Linked DNA regions of Homo sapiens. The protein of the gene in region 3 purifies or fractionates together with the protein of the main gene of each other region. This does not show direct contact. Each region holds a gene or a part of one and is shown on either strand. Other genes may lie near its edges.

Region 1 (5,077 bases), on a different chromosome or scaffold from region 3:
TCTCTAATACCTTTAATCTGCTTTATTTTTTCCCAAGGTACTTATTATTGCTTGGCATACTATATGTTTGTTTCTTATTTGCATTACCTAACTAGAATGTTAACTCCAAGAAAACAGACTGTTTTGTTCCTTGCTCATTCCCCAGCAATAGAACACAGAATAGTAGATTAATCAATAAGTATCAATAAATATCGATCTACCTAATGAATGAATAAATCTTGCACTAGAGTTTCTTATCCCAAACTAGAAGCAGATTCATCTTCCTTCAAACTGCATACCGTTTTTATTTTTCTTATGATAAATCATATCCTTGTACTAATAATCATTTTTTATTTATCTTAGCATCCTGTAAATATCAAGAACCATATCTTATTCCTCTTTGTATCCCCCACATCTAGCATCATTTCTTTCTTTTAAGAGGTACTCCGTATTTGTTGGGCTGAATTTGAAGTCATACTGAAAGATACTTCTTTTTTTTTTTTGAGACAGAGTCTCACCCTGTCGCTGACTAGAGTGCAGTGGCACGATCTCGGCTCACTACAACTTCTGCCTCCAGGGTTCAAGCGATTCCCCTGCCTCAATCTCCCGAGTAGCTGGGATTACAGGCGCATGCCACCACGCCCGCCTAATTTTGTATTTTCAGTAGAGACAGGGTTTCACCCCGTTGGCCAGGCTGGTCTCGAACTCCTGACCTCAGGTGATCCACCCACCTCAGCCTCCCAAAATGCTGGGATAACAGGCATGAGAAAGATACTTCTATAATACACCTGGATCTGTTGTGCTATGCCTTAGCACATGGCCCAGTACCAATTCTTAAATTGCTAAAAAATGTTCCGCTTTCATAACAAGCCACCAAATTTAATACAAGTGAGATAGAAGAGAGCGTGTAACGTGGCTCAGAGATGCCTAACATCCATTTTGTCCTGATATGGAAACCATAAAAACATTCTGAATGATGTCAACAAATCAAAAGATTTTCAGAGGATACTGAAAACTACTTGGCAGAAAGCCGCCTCAGCTTGACCCACTTATGAATTCTACAGAAAGAAAAGCCAGAGAGCAAATGCTTCACTCTTATCTTCATAAAGAAATAAATAACCAGAAACAAACATGAAGATTTTTTTTCCTAAAAAAACAAATTCCAGTACCACTACTACAATTAATATCCACTTGACCCAAAACTTCTGTACAACTCATTAACTGGTATTTTTAACAAAAAGCTTAAATCACCAAGGAAAGATTAAATTATCATCAACATGTTTAAAAAACTTAATATGCCTTGAGTTTTAAACTTTCATCAAGTCAGTTAAAATTAAAGTCTCATACTAAAGGAGTTAAACCTTCACTATTAAGAAAAGTCAACTGTACATAGTAATTTATTCTCCAAGACTTGTGGACAAGCAGAATTTTGCTTTTCAGTCAAATTCTGTGACAACTGATAATCCATAATTATAGTAATCAAAATAGTTAATAGGCTAGAACTCTCTTTTACTAAGCAAAAGAAGTGACAGCATTAAAAATAAATGATACAGTAAAAATAATGTCCCGCCTTCTACGGTGTCAGCTCACCTGAGGTATAAGTCTATCCAAGTACTCAACTCGATTGCCATGAGAAGGGTGTGTAGATAACCATTCTGGCATCTTGGGTTGGCCATGCAGGCTATCAACGAACTCCATTTGCTGCCAAAACACTGAACTGGCTCTTATGTCTGCACAAGCCTAAAACCAAAATTAGTAAAACCACACAATGAGCTCAGTTTTGAGGATTTTTTAAAAACTACTACTTTATTTTTTTTTAATTCTATTATAATTATACTTTAAGTTTTAGGGTACATGTGCACAACGTGCAGGTTTGTTACATACGTATACATGTGCCATGTTGGTGTGCTGTACCCATTAACTCGTCATTTAGCATTAGTTATATCTCCTAACAACTTTATGTCACTACATGCTTTAAAGTCATTTTCTATCATCACTTTAATAAAAGTAGAACATGCCCATTGCTTAGAAAAAGACCCACCTCAAACAACATGGTATCACAGTACTGAAATAACAGAATGCCTGCCCTTCCCATATACAACATTCACAATAACCCTGCTAACCAAAGATAGCCCACTATTTTCAGTATGATGGATATTAAGAACATGTATTAAGGGTAAAATCTTTTACACAAATTAAAAATTCTGTTTTCATAAAGTTTTAAAATATAATGTTATTAAACTGTATTAAAGAAACTTTACTTCTATGCCACTAGAACAATCAGAAAAAAACTTCAAATAAACATAAAGAGATGACATGTTTATTATGCACATCAATTTACCCAATTTTCTCAATGTATATGGACAATATATTTAATTCATATACCTTATAAAACACAATACCTTATAAAAGTACAATATAAAAGTACATTAGTACTTTTTAAAAGAATATATGTAGATCTTGTGTATGTACAATTCCATCATACACTCATATACATACTCATACGTATATACTTGTATATGCACAGAACATATCTGAGAAGCTATTTAAGAAGCTGTTAACTACCCTAAGAATGTACCTGAGGTATCTGATAGTGGAGAGGGAGCAACACTTTTATTTCTGAACTATATTAAAATACATTATTTTATAATTAAAATTATTTTTAAATCCTCCATAAGGTGGATTATTAACAAATATTTTATTAATTTGTTCAATTTATTCACATTTCTTAACTTATTCTTTCTATAATAAGTAACTGGAAAACAAGTGGTTATATTTCCCAATGATTTTATTTTTGATTAAAACTAAGAAAAAATATATATACTATACTGACTAAAATGTACTCTCAAAAAGATTTATAATAGTGTAATTGTGAAACCCCAAAAGGCAAATATATTAATAGAACACTGCATGCTAGTCAACAACCATGCTACATCATTTCTTAACAAATACCATTAAAGCATTTCCAAATGTTAGCAAAATAAAAAATTTTAAATTCAAGTAAATCTTATTCAATATTTAAAGAAATATAATTCCTTAAGACCTCTGAGTATTCTAAGTTGAAAAGAATTCAAGGTACTTTATACACTACTGCACAGATATGGATATACATGTTTATATGTATATAAACAGGAATATACAAGATAAATGTATATAACAAACATAAATATTATTCATGTTTATACACATATAAATACATATCTATATATGCAAGATGTGTGTGTGCTTATGTGTAAAATATGTATGTAACATATGTATCTATAAAGAAATAATTATTTGATGCTGAATTAGAAACACCCAGAGGACTATGCCCCTCAATAATAGGTAATCACATTCACAATAAAAATACAGGCTGAGATTAACAAGTATTCTTCTCAAATAATTCATAAAAATATAAAATGACTTGAAAGAATTCTAACACAAACAAAAAACCCCTCTGAAAACTGGAAGATAAACATTTGAATGGACTACAAATTCACGAATTATCTAACATGAAGTTTGTCTGCTACACAAACCAAAGGCATACTTATCTAATTTTTTTAGCCTAAAACTGTTAATCAAAAGACAAAATATTTCCCTATTCAATCTCTAAGTAACACAGCTGAAGGGAATCTTTAAAGCAATATTTGATATGCAGAAATAGAAAAAGAAATTAATTATCCCTACAGACTAGAAAGTATTCCAAGCTAAAAGTATTAAAAGGGGACTTGAGATATCTACTTTAATGTTAAGATAAGAGTGTTGAGTTTGTCTGTACTTCTCAAACCCAGTTCAAAGAGCCACTAAAGTCAGATAATTTTGTTTCCAAAATGAGTATTTTATTTACATTTTTCCAATTTAGGAAAAATAAGTAACAGGTTGACATCAGCAAGATGGAAGAATAGGACGCCCTAAACCCTCCTTCCCCACATGAACACACTGATTCAACGATAATATACGAATTCCCTTTGTGAGAAATCCTGAAACTAGGTGCAATGCTTCTGCACCTGCACAAGTACGAAATGAACAACATCAAACCTGGTAGAAGACTGGAGACACCCTCTTGCCATAATCTGCGAGAGCAATTATGTACCCCCAATACAGCACCATATGATCATAAGAACACCTGCAGCTCCCCACCACTCCTTGGGGAAGGAAAAACTTGGCTTGTGTATCTAACATTCCAACTTTTCTAAGAGCTGCCCTAGGAACTGGCTTCTGTCTTGCCAGCCTTGTAGCACTGATGGAATCTAAAACGCCCTAGATATCTAGGGGCCAGTGATAATGTGACAGAAGTTTGAACAAGCACACAAGCAGTTGCCATGACCACTCCCTGAAGCTCAGCATGAAATGAGTTGGAGAGAAACTCCAGAGCCCAGCTTCTCCTGGGGCAGGGCTCGGGAAAGAGGTAGATCACGTGTCCAACATTCTAACATTTCTGAGGGCTGTCCAAGGGACTGGCTTCTGTCTCATCTGTCTTGTAGCACTGATAGGACCCAGCATATGGACCAGATGGACCAGACAGGACCCTAGACACCTAGGCACCACTAAGAACAAAGACAGCACTTTGGACTAGCATGAAGGTTTGAGAGGTTCTGGGAATCTCTGCTGTGCTGACTGGTGAAGATCTTCTCCTGTACAAAGACAGTCTGTAAAGGCTAAGAGGTTGCTGTTTTTTCCTAATGTGTAGATATCAACAATAAGAGTGAAAAAAATAAACAGAGAAATATGTACCAAAGGATGAAGATAAATCTTCAGAAACTGACCCTAATGAAAGAGAAATATATTACTTATCTAACAAGAGAATTCAAAATAACCATCATAAAGACACTCAAAGAGGTCAGAACAATGTACGAACAAAGTGAGAATTTCAACAAAGACACAGAAAATGTAAAAAAGTACTAAACAGAAATTCTGAAGCACACTCCTAAACAACATACTCCTGAACAGCCTATGGGTCAAGGAAAAAAAAACCAAAAAGAAAATGATTTTGAGACAAATGAAAATGAAAACACAATATAACAAAACTGATGGGATACAGCAAAGGCAGTTCTAAGAGGATGGTTTATAATGATAAACACCTACATTAAAAAAAAAAAGAAGAAAGCAAGCAAATAAA
Region 2 (5,077 bases), about 46 Mb from region 3:
GCCCCCCCATGGATGGGACCTTAATGGGAGACAAGTGCAGAGACTACAGAGACGAGGCCGGGTGCATGAGGAGAAAGGGCGGGAGCGGGAGGCCGGGCAGAGAGGGTGGGAATGGGGGAGAAGCATGAACCAGTAGGAAGGGGGGGCAGACAGAGAGAAAAGTCACAGTTACAATGACAGGAACAGAAACACGGACAGTCACCAAGGGCCAGACACACAGCGGGGGTCAGGGCTGCAAACCGAGAAGGCAGAACAAGAAGAAATCGAGAAGAAGAGCAGTCAGACAAGGAAGGAAGGGCTCGCTGGGGCTGCAGTCAGATGTGCATGATGGCTCAAGAGGAAATTTTTTTCTAAAAAAAGTCTTTTTGATTAAATGACTCAACTAAAAAAAAAAAAGCTTTAGGACGCAAGGAGGATGAGTGTGCAATGTGTACAAAAGAGAACCTGAATCACATCCAGATCTGGAAAGCCGGGGGAGAAGGGAGAGAAAGAAATGCAGTCAAGAGAACAAGAGATAGAGAGAAAAAGGGGGAAGAGCAAGGAAAAGGGAAAGGGCAGAAAAAAATCCGTGCTCAAGAGCCCAGCGGGCCCAAACTGAGGGCCAGGAGGCCTAGGCAGCTTAGAAACTGGGACTGGGACATTAATAAGCTTGCGTGAGATCAAACTAACCAGCTTCTTCTGTGGAGGAAGCAAGAGAGAAGATGAGAGGAAGAGAGGAGAGGAAGCAGACAGAGGAGAGAGAGGGGGAAGGGAGAGACGGCGTTAGAGACAGCTTCCACGATGCCCCTCCTGATGCTGCTCCTTACCCCCCAGTCTAGCCCCGTGAGGGCCCCAGTTGCCAGGTAAGGCTCCCCAAGCAGGAGGCAGGGCCTGCGTTCCAGGCCAGCCGCCACGGAAGCATCCACCTGCCCCACCCACCCCTGAGAGCAGAGGGCAGCTCCGTCCTCACCTGGAACATCTGGATCATGTCCTCGCAGTTGCGCTGCTGAGCCACATCGCAGAGCTTGGCGGTGATGTCGATGCGGCGGCAGATGTCCATATCCACCTTCATGGCTTTCTCCTGGATCTTGGTGTCCAGCTCCGACAGGTTCTGTCCAGGGAGCCCAGGGAACAGTGAGGAGGCGCCCAGTTCTCCAGACAAGGACGAATTAGGCCTGGCAAGGTCCTCATCCTTCCCACCACATTGCACCGGTGCCTCTTCTGTGGAGTCTCCCTGAGCTGACTGCACCCCTCTTCCTGGGTAGCGGTGGCCTCCCCACAGCACTGTGTGAATATGCTGGGCATGGGGCGGCTCGGGCCACTGCTCCCTGGCCAAACGGAAGCCCTGGAGGGCATGGCCAGTGCCTGGGACATGCAGGGGGCTCACTGGAACGACTAGCGGTCCTCATCCTCCTAGAACTTACATTCCCAGAGAGAAAGAGACTCCTGGGAATTATAAGAGTGGAGAAAGGACTATAATAATCGCAACAGCTAACACTCTTCCAGCTAACACTGCATGCTGGGCACTGTCCCGAGTACATGACCACCCTCACAATACTCCTGCAGAGCGCACGCGTTTATTTCCCCACGCCAAAGGTGAGGCCTCAGAGGCTGAGGAATCGGCCCAGCGCCCCGGCGCCAGCTGCAGAGCCTCCACCCCAGAAGCTGCTCACTAACTGCTCTGCAACCCCAGGCCCTCAGAAGCTGCGCCACCTCTGTGACGCAACACCGAGACTTTTGTTGCTTGTCTTTCTCTGGAGTTAGGGGTGGCTAGGGGAAAAAGGGAAGGAAAGCAAAGAGAAGGGGAGGAGCCGTGGACGGGAGGCCAACAGGCCAACACTAGAAGGGCCTACTCTTCTGGCCTCAGAAGCCTCACTTCGACCCTCGGGAAGCCTGGGGCTGCACTCACGTTACTCATGAGCCCCTTGAAGACCACCAGCTCAGCCTTCAACTGTTCCACCTTCAGTGCCAGCTCCTCCTGGCAGGCATCAGCCTCCTGGGCTTCCTGCAGTTGGGAGAAACCCTGATGTTGGTGGCACTGCCGAGGTGGGAGGAAGATAAAGATGCCAAGGAGGGACAGGGAGACGGCAGCAGGGTCATGGGCAGACAGGGGTACCCAGGGAAGCACCAGCAGCAAGTGGGGCGCCACCCTCACCTCCTGGAGCTCATTTACACGGTCTTGCAGCTGGATCCGCACCGTGTACTCCTCTTCCCACCTGACAGACATGGGAAGGGCGGAGAGAGCTTAGGTACAGAGTCCTTCCCTGCCCCCATGGCTCCCTGTCCCCACCTCTCTGGCTCAGGCCTCAGACCCCAGTTCTGGTTCCCTGGATGGGGAGGAGCAGGGCACAGGAATGCCTGGCCAGCCAGCTGGTGACCAACTGCAGCTGTCACGCGGCTCTGTGCTTCCTGATGGGCGTCGAGCTCGCCAGCTGCCTTCCCGGAACCTCCGGGCTGTGCACCAGGAGCTCTGTTTGGGCAAGTGCTGAGGCTCCGGTCCTCCGTGATGCCCATCCCTGCTCAGGCCCCAGCTCAGCCAGCTGTCCGGCTGGCCTCATTGCCCACCTCCTGCCCACACCAGACCACCAGGTCCACCCGGCCCAGTCTCCCACCTTCAGTCGCACAGATCCGGGCTCCCGCCTCCTGCCCGCACCAGAACAGAGCTCGTCGAGCCCGCTGCCCTGCCTCTTGTGGTATCATTTAACCCTGTAAAAGCATCTGCAGGACACATAGTGTATCAACAGAGTGGGTCAAGAGCCTGGTAGGAGACACTCAAAGTCCTTCCCCACTAGCTCCAGAAACTACCCACCCAGAGCCTCCTCTAAGGGAGTCACAGAGAGGTGACCAGACTGGCTCAGAGGCCGGAAGTCCCACAGCAGCATGACAGCAGTGGACACACGAGCCTGGGGTTACTAGCACTCAAACCCAGAGGGAAAGAGAAAGTAGAGTATGTAAAGGGGCCCGGTGAGTACGGCAAATGAGAACTAGACACAGCCTGTTCCAGGGCCCAGAATTCAGAGATTAAGACTGCAAGTGGGCCGGACGACACCCTGGGCCACAGGGCAGGGTCCTAGGTAGGGCATGCTTCCCAGAGCCAGCTTTGTCATGTCTCATCAGCCATGGCAGGCAGTGCATATTCTATTCCATCACAGAGATGGAAGCCAGGGCAACGTGCTGCTTAGGACCCGCCCGGCATTCCAGGGCCCTGCAGTCTAGCTGGCGTAGCAGCACATCTCAAATCCTGTTCCTGTGAGCTCATCACTTCTGTCAACCCGAGAAGGGAGGGGAACTGCACCAAGAGAGAAACTTCAACACAAGAAAGGTGGTTAGGAAGGGGCCAAGAAGACAGCAAGAAAATTAAAATCTGAGTGGGCAGCTTCTGAAGCCTTGGGTGAAGCCCTTTCTTCCCCTTCCCTCCATCTTCCTTCCTGTGTCAGCCTCTGGGTCCCATCTCCTCATTCACAGCCGCACTGCAGTATTCCTAATAATAACTCCTCCACATCACCTCGACTGCCCCTCCCTGCTGGGCAGAGCAGGAGGAGGCAGCCAGCCCAGCCACCACCCTGCTGGCTCCCCACACAGCCCAGCTCCCAGCCTTCCTGGCTCCCAGCCCCCTTCCCTGTGTGTCCCGTAGGTGCTTCTCCCCTCCTCCCTGGCATTCTCATGCATACAGTCAGGCCACTAAGGGAACCAGTCGCATCAGATTATGTTTTCTTAGCTAAGACCCTTATCTTTTCTGGGTCTTGGTTTCTTCATCTATGATGTGAAGGCATGAACTGTGGTGCCCTCATGCGCCGGGAGCCCACGAGTCCCTGGAGGGAGACAGTAAGCCTGTCAAGGGCACGCTAACCCTGGACAAGATGTGTGAAAGAGGGCAGGAGGGGCTATCTGACAGTGAGCTCAACAGAGCCTGGAAGAAACTTAAGTAAGGCAGTTATAGCTAAAGGTTAAGCCTAAGGAAATCTTACAGGGTAAAAAAAATCTACAAATGAATCATCTGGAAGCCCACTACAGTTCTATTTGTTCTTTGGCCAGACTTCACACAGACAGGTTCATTTTCACCTCCATTTCCATCTGGTCTCACTTATAAGGTTCCCTTAACATGGGCAGAATTTGAGAGCGATATCCATGTGTTCTGCATGGACCAAATATCTCTCTTCCAAAAAACTGTATCCCTGGGTTGAAGAGAGAAAGCAGGGACCATTCCTATGTTGGGAAAATGGGGGCTCAAAAAAAGGTCACGCACAAGGCAGGGGAGCTGAAAATAGAACGCAGGAGGCCTTTAGCTACCTCCCAGTGTAGCGCTCAAGCCATCCCAGGCCTTCCAGGCAGAAGACAGGAGTTACAGTGTTGCTATAAAGAGACCAGAATGAGGGCAGGGAATCTAGGGAGGAAGAAGAGTCACTGCCAGTATCACGCACCATCCGAATCCAGCTAAGGCTCTCTACACAGCAGCGTGCTGCAGAGCGATGAGCTAATCAGTCCCCAAGGAATAACTCCTTCCTGTCCTGGACAGCTGGACCAAGGACAAACGCTCCTTCAGTTTAAAAAAAAAATGCTCCTGAGAACAGCAGTTGTTCCTGTGGTTATGGATGTATTCCAGAACTGTGCCTGTGCCACTGCTGAGCGCGTAGTTAACTCCTGCAGGGGCAGAGCAGGCTGGTTCTGGGTGGCAGAACGATGATTTCAGGACAACTGAAACTCCCAAGGACACATAACATGGACCACAACTAAGGAAGCCAGCACGAGGACAGGACTCAAGCTCAGAAAGCCTGCTGATCAGGTCAGGAGTTTGAGACTGGCCTGGACAACGCAAAAAGAAAAAAAAAAAATAGCCAGGCATGGACATGGTAGTGCACACCTGTAGTCCCAGCTACTCAAGAGGCTGAGGCAGGATGATTGCTTGAGCCCAGGAGGATGAGGCTGCAGTGAGCTGTGATGACGCTACTGCACTCCAGCCCGGATGACAGAGCAAGTCCCTGTCTCAATATTTTAAGTCAAGGGTCTGTAGTCATGTGTTCAACGCCACTTCTTGCCATCACTTTGCAATTATTGAAATGGGCATACTGAGCTCAGAAAGCAAATCTGATGCTTTCAC
Region 3 (4,699 bases):
GCTAAAGGTCACACAGTGAGATGTTCCATTTTCTTCACCATTCTGCACCCGGGGCATTATGTGTTTGATTCCTTCCCGCCTTGCTCCTCTGTCTGAGCCTGTGCAGGAATGGGAACCTAGAGGGAGGTGAGGATTGTGGGGCCGGAGTAGGAAGGAAGAGAGGGTCAGAGCTAGAGGGAGAGTGAGGGAGTGAAATACGGCAGGTCACTAAGGCCCAGCTAGGCTGAAGTTGGAATAGGTGAGAAGTCCATCAGGACTGGAGTTGTAGTTGGCTTCTGAACTAGGGAGGGATGGAGCTGGTGCTTGAGTCTCAGGTCTGGACTCCTGACAGGGGCTGCTGCTGCTGCTGCTGCTTCTTGTTTTTTTATTTTTTTGAAACAGGGTCTTGCTGTGTCGCCCACGCTGGAGGCAGTGGCACAAACATGGCTCACTGTGCGGCTTCAACTTCCTGGGCTCAAGCTGTCCTGCTTCGGCCCCCTAAGTAGCTGGGACTATAGGTGCACACCACGTCGCCCAGCTAATATTTTTATATTTTATAGAGATAGAGTCTCACTGTATTGTCTGGGCTGATCTCTAACTCTGGGGCTCAAGCGATCTTTTCACCTTGGCCTCCTAAAGTGTTGAGATTATAGGTGTGAGCCACTGCACCTGGCCTAGGGCCAGCTTCTGAGCTGTGTGATGTCACAGCATACAGGGCTGGTTGGAATGATTGATCACAAATTCTGGAACTTTCTAGGATTGTGTCCCTCTCAGAATTCCATCAGGGGTGGCTGAGAGACCTTGGTTTGATTCTAGCTTTTACAGGAGAATTTGTTCTTTTCAGTCCACTCACTTCTGGTCTCTTAATATTCTTAATAATTTCTAGTGCCCAGAAGGGTAGGGGTGGGGGACTCCCATTTCTGCTGTATTTTCTGGGCCTTGGACTGGAAGTTTAGAGATTCACTCCGGCTTAAAGATGTATGTTCAGGGAGTCACCTTGGCCCATAGTGGGGCTGAGCTGTCATCTTCCCCTTCCCCTACCTCGTCAGTGTCAAGTTAATACTTCCATGCATGAAGGAGCTGAATGGCCCTGGTAACCACGGAGGTTTCTCTCTGTACTTGCAATCTCTGATCACAGATATCAATGTAATAAGAGGTTGGCCATAAGAGGCCCTGATCCCTAGAGGGACTTCTACTTTACATTCTGCAAAAGAATAACACTAATGATAAAAAATAGAGTGATAATTTTGTGGCATGCACCATCTAAACCTTTTACGTATATGAAATCCTTTAACTCATCAACTTATGAGGTGGTTGCCCTTTCTATCATCCTCATTTTGGAGGTGTGGAAACAGGCACAGAGAGGGTAAATACATTGCCCAACCCACTCACCTAGGAAGGACCAGGGCCCAGCTTGGGGCCCAGGCAGTCTGGCTGGAGTCCGTGTCCCCCCTCTATGCCACATCATCTTGCTATGTGCTGTTTTCTGTCTTTGAGGAAAATGTATCAGCTGTGGCAGGTCTCCAAAACCCCAGAGTGATGCCATTTAAAAAAAAAAAAAAGAAAGCCAACATCAAAGGCTTTTTGAAACTTTAAATCATATTCATGTATTCACCTCTTAAAGAATTCCAATAAATTACTCAGGCATGAGTCTTCCCTACCAAAGCAATGGGTGATGTTGCCTCAAGCTTTGAGTGATTGGTGAATCTGATTTTCATGATCCATCAGTTTGCAGATATGCATGAGATGTTTTCTGAGAGACAGCTGCAGTTTAGTGAAATGAGCACTAGCGACACACACAGGGCTTAAACCCCAGATGAACCACCCAACTAAGTGGGTGACCCTGCCCCAATTATTGAGTGCCTCTGAGTTCTGGCTTCTTCATCTGCAAGGTGTATCATTAGGGTTGTGTGGATAAAGTTACATCAAATAGGGGCCTAGCACAACTCTTGGCTAAATCTGAACCTTCTATGAGGCGGGGGATAGAAAACTGTACTGGAGACCCTTGGCTTGGCCTTTTGCTGCTCCATGTGACTTTGGGGACCCTCCCTAACCCCGACCCCTGAGGAGGGTAATAGAGACACACACAAGACCCAGGTTGGCTACATTAATTTATTGAAACACAGATCAAGAGCAGAGGAGGAAGGGGAGAGGCAGGAAGGCAGTTGCCGTGGGCAAGGTTCTGGTCCTGGCCCTTCCTGCTCCTGAGGCCCCTTCCTATGGGTGCCAGCGGACTTCTTTCTAGGGTGGCCTTTCCCACTGTGGGGTGGCAGAGCCCAGAAGTGGGGGATCACACAGAGAAATGTGAGGCCAGGAGTGGGAGGGGTCTTTCAAAGTGCAGGAGAAGTAGCTGAGCACTTGCTCCAGGCGCCTGGACTGGATGGGCCAAGCAAGGCAGGGCAGGAAAGATGCCTGGGGCCTGGGACTTGAGTTGGGGTGCCTAACATTTCCGGCAGCTGCTGCCGCAAGACCCCACACCCAGGGAGCTGATACCACAGGAGCCCACGCCGCAGGAACCCCCTCCGCAGGTGGTGTTCAATTGGCCGCAGGGCGCACACAGGCCGGTGCTCACCGCCACGTTCCCGTTGCACGGAGCGCTGCAGACACTGCCAGTCACTGGCCGGGAGCCTGACACGCAGAGGTCCCCGCACACGACCCCGCCCCGGGAGCTGCTGACACCTGTGAACCCCGAAGGCTGAGTCAAAATTCTGAAGGGCAAGCCATCCTGCCTTCCTGACAACCGCCCCTGCCCAAGACCTGAGCTCTGGTATGAAAAGTCAGAAGCATCTTTGTGGACAATTCTAGGTCCATCTAGTCCAAGAGCTGGGGTCTTTTGGATGTCTGACCCCAAATCCCTCCTGTTGTGATGCCAGCCCACTCTTTTATATTCAATCTCAGTAACACTCCTTTTTCCAAACTCTGCCCTCCATCACAGGTAGTTAGTAAATCTGTCCACACTGGACCCCAAATACTCACAGACATTCACAGCCCCAATGCCTTCACATAGCCTGAGGGCAAAAGAGAAAAAGGCAACATTAGTGACTGCCCCAGAGTGGCTGAAAAAGCTCCCCAGTTCATAGGGTAGGGTCCACAACTGGTCAATTAAGAACAGAGTCTGAGGGAACAGCTTGCCTCAGACAAACTCACACACCAGCCCTCCCCACACCGGAAGTGAATAATAATATTTTTTTCCCCCAGAGCCCTGGCCATTGCTCAGCCAAGGCCAAGGGTAGGCTTGTGCCAGGGATGGGGAAGGGTGGTTCTGGGCCACCCTTGGTTGGACCCACCTCTGCTCCTCGCCCTCCAGCAGGCGCCTGTAGGTGGCGATCTCGATGTCCAGGCCCAGCTTGGAGTTCATCACCTCCTGGTACTCCCTGATCAGGCAGGCCATGTCCTGCTTGGCCTTCTGCAGGGCGCCCTCCAGCTCGGCCAGCTTGCAGCGGGCATCACTGAGGGCCGCCTCACCCTGCTGCTCAGACTGGGCCACCGCGGCCTCCAGCTTGGAGTTCTGAAGAGAACAGAAAGAACAAGGTAGATTAGAGTCCCTGGGTCTCTCTGATGCTCATCCAAATGAGACCACACTCCCCACCAAGCTGGGAGCACCCCAGAACAGAGCCTCTTGCCTTTATCACCTGGGACTCATTGAGAGACCACGACCAGGGACTCTACATGGACAAAGGGGGTGGAGAATGAATGCTGAGATCCAGGTAGGGCACACATAGGCTGTGTGACAATGGTTAGGCCCTCGGTCTCTCTGACCTTGCGCACAGATGCCCCATACCTGGCACTTGGCATTCTCCACCTCGGCCGTCAGCCTTTGGATCATGCGGTTCAGCTCATTGATCTCCTCCTTGGTGCGGCGCAGGGTCTCCCCGTGCCTGATCACCGTGGCCTTCATCTCCTCACACTGGGGGAAGTAGAGATGCTCATGAGGTTCAGGGTGGGACCTCCCATCCATTCAGGACACCACAGATGATTTTGCAGGTTGTACAGTGCTCAGCCTGTGCAGCCACACATGGCAGTCCTGCCCTGCCACCCCAACCTCAGATTGGCAGCCCTCTCTTCTCATCCCTAGGGACCAGCATCCCCAGAAAAGGAAGCCTATTTAATAGATATCTCACATCCCTCCCACTGACACGTCTAGCAGGCAGGTGTCCTGTGCCACTCACCTTGCTGCGGTACCAGGACTCGGCCTCGGCCCGGCTGCGGGTGACAATGTCGTCATACTGTGCCTTAATCTCGGCAATGATGCAGTCCATGTTCAGGTCCCGGCTGTTGTCCAGCTTGACAACCACGGAGGTGTCTGAGATGTGCGACTGGAGAATGAGGATCTCCTGCAGGAGGTGAGGGCAGTGACTTTAGTTGAGAATACAGCCCCACCCACCATGTCCTGACTCCACCTCCTCAGGCTTTCTCTGGTCCCCAACCCTGCCCCCTCACACAGCCTCAGGGACTGCAACCTCTACCCACATCCTGTCCAACACTCCCACCCCCAACTCTCCTCTCTGCTGGCTGCCAGGTTTCTGTCTGGCCCCTGAGCCCGCACCTCCTCATACAGCCGCCTCAGGAAGTCGATCTCCTGGATCAGGGCCTCCACGTTGGCCTCCAGGTCTGACTTGCGGAGGTAGGCGCAGTCCACATCCTGGAAAGGTGGGGAGTGTTGGAGCTCAAGGACCCTGGTGATCCAGCCCCCAGACTCCTCTCTCTGCCCATCCATTCC
Region 4 (5,077 bases), on a different chromosome or scaffold from region 3:
GGGACTTAAAGGCACATGCCACCACGCCCAGATAATTAAAAAAATTTTTTCTGGAGACAGGATGTCAACTGTGTTGCCCAGAGTGGTCTCAAACTCCTGGCCTCAAGTGATCCTCCCACCTTAGCCTCCTAAAGTATTGGGATTACAGATGTGAGCCACCGTGCCGGGCCTAAATTGTTAATTTGATAATAGCCTCTGAAACAGAGGGAGAACAGTGCACACAAGCAAGTTTAGGTTTCGCTGTGGGAATTTACATTCTTTTTTGTTTTTAAACCCCAAAGATGTCAAGATAGTTACTTAAAGGTTTTTGACAAAATCCCAAGGAGATTATTTCTGTTCTATTAAAACATGTAATACATGGAGAGAAAATATATCTTTTGCTTTTTTAGCAAGAGGGTCCTGAGAGAGTTAGGAGAGGAAGTGAAGGGTCAATGGAGGCCATGTGGTCAGCTGGGAGAATGCAGCAGCCAGGATGTTATTGACCACAGCACAGGCTGACATTGAGTGGGTGCAGATCTTTGGTGGAATTCCAAGCATGTTGCACACCTGACCTCACTTTATGACTCTGGGAGGGAAGGGAGGGAAACTGAGGTGCAGTGAGAAGGGGTGATCGGTACGAACTTCCTCCTTCACACAGAGGAAGAAGAGCTAGAATGAGAACTGGAATGACTGGCCCTGAGGGGCCTGTTGGGGCTGCACATGTGCCTGGTCAGAGCCTAGACCTGCCCATTGAGTGTGTATGAATCACTGACTTCGCAGAGCTGGAAGGGTTCCTTGTTTCAAGGACACCGAGACTCAGATGGAATGGCTTGTCCAGGGATAGTGACGGAATCGGGACTAAGAATATGAGTAGCTGCCATTTAAGGGCTTTCCATATGCCAGGAACTGCCAGCAAACACTATGAGATAGGTACTGTCAATCATCCGTGGTGAGCTTGAGCCCATGCACTTCATGGGCTACGCCACTGATCCTTTAGTGTTTGTTCTAAGCTTCCAGTCATGTGAAAAACTGCCCATTAAACTTGGTTGGAATGATATAAAATACTGAGTATAGTACTTTTTTTAGATGGCTCCGGAGTCACAGAGACCTGGGTTGAAATTCCAGCCCTTGTACTTGTTTAAGTTTGTCACCTTGAACAAGCTACCTAACCTCTCCAAGCTTTGGCTTTCTCATCTATAAATTGGGGATGACAGGTAATGGGGTTTTGAAATTTCTAGATAGCACTTTTGAGCTTTTGTGCAAGAAGGCAAGCAGAAAAGAGTTCAGTTCTATGTGGCAAGTAACATAAACAGGGTCTGTGACCTTCCCAGAGACCAAGAAGGCCATCATGACGTCTGCTGTTCAACTACATAGGTTCCCAAGTCCCTTGGTACAAATCAGGAGGGGACAGGTAGAAGGACTGAGAGAGGTAGGCTTGTGATTTGTTACCTGAGATGATGATGTGAGAGTGGACACACATGCAGCTGCTCCAGATATGGCTGGAGAAGTGCAGGAACAGTGGGGTCCTGGTCAGCAGGCCGGCCATTATGCCCCTGACCAGCTGGATGCGTCCTCCTCACGTCTCCTGTTGTAACTGACTTGCACTGAGTTGCAAATTGCAAATGGGTGTTGACCCTGGAAGGGACTCTTGAAAGTCACCACTCTCACGACTTTCTAGTCCTTAGAGAGTGGGTGGGCTCCATGCAGCACAGACTGGGAGAGTGCCATGACTGTGGGCACTTGATGTGCAAGGGCTGCCTGCCTTCCAGACATGCCATTGTCCTTCGCACATTATTGCCTCCAGGAGTGGGAGCAGTGGCCAAATACACATCAGGTGTATTTCTGGACCCACAGGCTGCAGCAAGAGCACCGGATACCTAGGAGTTGCATCCTGGCTTGGAAAGCAGGACTCGGCCGGTTAGTGGATGAGTCCAGGTCATTGCTCAGCTCAGTGAAGAGAGTGTCCCTTCAGTCTAGCCCCAGGTCTACTTCAGCTATGCAGGGATTGGTTGCATGAGGGCTGGGACACAGGAATGGGGGATGGGGATGGGGATTTGAAGGAAGACTTCCCTACTGATTGCTTCTACAGTAGGACTATGGACTTTTCCTCTGTAAAAGACAAGTACTTTTGGCTGGGCATGGTGGCTCATGCCTGTAATCTCTGCACTTTGGGAGGCCAAGGTGGGTGGATCACTTAAGCTCAGAAGTTGGAGACCATCCTGGGCAACATGGTGGGATTCTGTGTCTACAAAAATTAGCCAGGTGTGGTGGCGTGTGCCTGTAGTCCCAGCTACTTGGAAGGCTGAGGTGGGAGGATTGCTTGTGCTTCAGAGGCGGAGGTTGCAGTGAGCCGAGATCACACCACTGCACTCCAGCCTGGGCGACAGGGTGAAACTGCATCTCCAGAAACAAAAAAATAGACGAATATTTTTAAGAGTCCTGCTTTAGTAAGAAAGGAGTGGATGCTGGGTGTAGGGGAAGTCAGGGGAAGAAAAAAACCTCCATCAACCCTACGCACCCTGATGGTGTTAAGGACTAGTGTTCAAATCCAACGCACAGGAAAGGGTGAGGCTTTAAAACCAAACAATGGAACAAATAGCAAATTAGGTATTTACTCACCATATAACAAAGGTGTTGCACAATTGTTTTGTTAAGTGGTGAATCAAAATTCAGCTTGGCCGTGCCTTGTGCTGTGGGCCCCCAGGCCCATGCCCCTGCCTCCAGCAGGTCTCTAATCCAGCAGCTGGGCTGGGTTTTTCTGATCTCTGTTCCAGTAGCACTGAGGGAACGTGTCCTTTGGCCCGTCACACTCTGTTACCCCTGGCTTGTCTCCTGTCTCATTAGACTGCGTTCTTGAGGACAGGGATTGACACTAGATCCTCAGTGCTCAACACCTGCCTGCCTCGATTGGGTCCACAATGAAGATTTGAAAGAAGAGTGGGAAATCAGAGAGGCAAGCAGGTGTGTGCATTTTCCTCTTTAGCTTTCTCCTGTGAGCTCTACTCTCATTTGTACACCTGCATATTCCAAACCTCTTTTTGAAGGTTTTACTGCCACCTCAAAATCCGTTTCGAAGCTCACCCCTCACTCTTGCTTCTTGTCTTGTGTTTCCTGTTTCCTTGTATCTGAATATCCCTCTCCCTGTCATCCTCAGCCCATGTCGCCCACTGCTCGGCTCTCCCATGATCTCCTTCCCTCTTCTGCAACCCTCATTGCTTCTGCCGTGCTACTGATTTGTCTTCATCTGGTCTCTAGTCCTCCTAAACATTTATTGAAGTTGCTTAACCTAAAGAATATCCACGTGACTGCTGTGTTGCAGGTCCTGTGTTGGAGGAGGTGGGCCCAGATCTCTGACCTATACCAATCTCTTCTGGCATCAGTTTCTTCCATCCTGTTGGATTCTTCACTTCGAACTCATTACTCTTATACAGGCAATGTGGGGAAGATTGAAACTGATTCCTTGGTTGGCATTCAGGGCCTTCTGTGATCTTGCTCATTCATCCGTCTTTTCCAGTCATGTCCCGTGGCTCCCTTTCATGCATGCTGTACGTTCCAGCCAGACTGGTACATACCCCGTCATGCCCTACCTCTTCCTCTGTTATCATGTGGCTTCCTGCGGGAATGCCTTCTCCTCCCTTCACTTCTCCCATGCCCTTGTCCAAATTTTGTCCTTGTGCTTCAGCTCAAATGCCATCTCCTCCAGGAAGCCTTCCCTGCTCTTATCTGGTAAGCATTTGAGTACCTATAGTGCCCATAGTCCACCACTGGAGGAGACACCTTGTTTTTGTTTTGTTTTGTTTTGTTTTGTTTTTTGAGATGGAGTCTTGCTCTGTTGCCCAGGCTGGAGTGCAGTGGTGCGATCTCGGTTCACTGCAACCTTCACCTCCCAGGGTCAAGTGATTCTTGTACCTCAGCCTTCCTAGTAGCTGGGATGACAGGTGCATGCCACCATGTTCATCTAATTTTTTGTATTTTTAGTAGAGATGGGGTTTTACCGTGTTGGCCGGGCTGCTCTCAAACTCCTGACCTCAGGTAATCCACCCACCTCGGCCTCCCAAAGCACTGGGATTACAGGCATGAGCCATCATGCCCGGCCCCCTTAGTTTAATTGCTTAGGCTGTATATATCATTTTGCCTCTCTGCATCCTGTGTCCTCTCCTTGAGGTAAGTTGGGTCTATGTCAAATTCCTCATAGCCATCTTTCTGCCTAGTGCAGTGTGCAGCCCACAGCGTGCTCTGAGGAGGTGCTGGCTGCATAATAGCACCTGTTTCCTGCCTTGCCCTCCCTGTGCTAAGCCCTTTCCATGCTTTGTTTCACTTAATCCTCACAGCAGCCCTTTGACCCAGATGCTATTAATTTTGTCTTCCTGAGGAGGAAACTGAGGCTCAGAGAGATTAAGCCACTTGCCCAGGGTCACACAGCTGGTAGGTGGTAGAGCTGGGTTCTATGCCCAGAACTTTTGCCTTTAATTCCTGTTGTATGACCCGAATGAGTGGGATGAATAGAACTGTCAAAATAGGATGTGTAAAGCCAGTGGAGGATGTAAACTTCAGAGGATGCCACAAATTCAGAAAGAACGCTTCTCATTTTTTAAATCACTGTGTTCAGTGGGTTTCAGCCATGCCCTTTACCAAGAATAGCCCACAGCTTAGACCATCATTAAAAGGGGTGGGGTGGGAAAGGCAGCAGGAGAGTAACTGGTCTTCTCAACCCCCTCACAGCAATGACTTCCCAGGAACTGGTGTTTCAGGGTCTCACATCCTAGTAGACCAGGCCCTGGAGTGTTGGAGAAAGACAGCCAAATTGCCTTTTTGCCTCTTCATTCCTTCTTTAATCCCCCAAATCCTTAAGGAGTCATGACTGTCATATACTGTCCTAAGTCCTCTGGGACCACAGAAATGACTCAATCCCATTCAAGAGCCTTTGCTGCAGGAGAAGGAGTGAAACCCATAAATGAATAATCCTAACTTTCAGAAAAAGAGTTAATGTGATTCTGAGAGACAGGCTTTTACTGTGGAAATGGGGAGGAAGGAGAAACCCTTATATCTCCAGACTACAGAAGAGCCCCCAAGCCTCGGCTTCCTTAGTTAACACCCC

Evidence for each region. The genes of interacting proteins can lie anywhere in the genome.
Region 1: the proteins of KRT81 (region 3) and OMA1 purify together in Homo sapiens (affinity purification with mass spectrometry; one large-scale study listed by BioGRID and IntAct). This does not show direct contact.
Region 2: the proteins of KRT81 (region 3) and IFFO1 purify together in Homo sapiens (affinity purification with mass spectrometry; one large-scale study listed by BioGRID and IntAct). This does not show direct contact.
Region 4: the proteins of KRT81 (region 3) and FAM83D purify together in Homo sapiens (affinity purification with mass spectrometry; one large-scale study listed by BioGRID and IntAct). This does not show direct contact.

The regions. Positions count from the first base shown.
Region 1 is NC_000001.11:58,504,491-58,509,567, forward strand, and holds part of OMA1 (metalloendopeptidase OMA1, mitochondrial precursor), read right to left. Parts: intron 1,720-5,077; coding exon 1,570-1,719; intron 1-1,569. UniProt on the Homo sapiens protein: Metalloprotease that is part of the quality control system in the inner membrane of mitochondria. Activated in response to various mitochondrial stress, leading to the proteolytic cleavage of target proteins, such as OPA1, UQCC3 and DELE1.
Region 2 is NC_000012.12:6,548,807-6,553,883, forward strand, and holds part of IFFO1 (non-homologous end joining factor IFFO1), read right to left. Parts: intron 2,698-5,077; exon of another isoform or gene 2,592-2,697; intron 2,196-2,591; coding exon 2,135-2,195; intron 1,985-2,134; coding exon 1,889-1,984; intron 1,091-1,888; coding exon 950-1,090; intron 679-949; coding exon 670-678; intron 44-669; coding exon 1-43. UniProt on the Homo sapiens protein: Nuclear matrix protein involved in the immobilization of broken DNA ends and the suppression of chromosome translocation during DNA double-strand breaks (DSBs).
Region 3 is NC_000012.12:52,283,836-52,288,534, forward strand, and holds the end of KRT81 (keratin, type II cuticular Hb1), read right to left. Parts: intron 4,622-4,699; coding exon 4,526-4,621; intron 4,314-4,525; coding exon 4,149-4,313; intron 3,887-4,148; coding exon 3,761-3,886; intron 3,488-3,760; coding exon 3,267-3,487; intron 2,988-3,266; coding exon 2,956-2,987; intron 2,659-2,955; coding exon 2,420-2,658; 3' UTR 2,078-2,419; downstream 1-2,077.
Region 4 is NC_000020.11:38,935,576-38,940,652, forward strand, and holds part of FAM83D (protein FAM83D), read left to right. Parts: intron 1-5,077.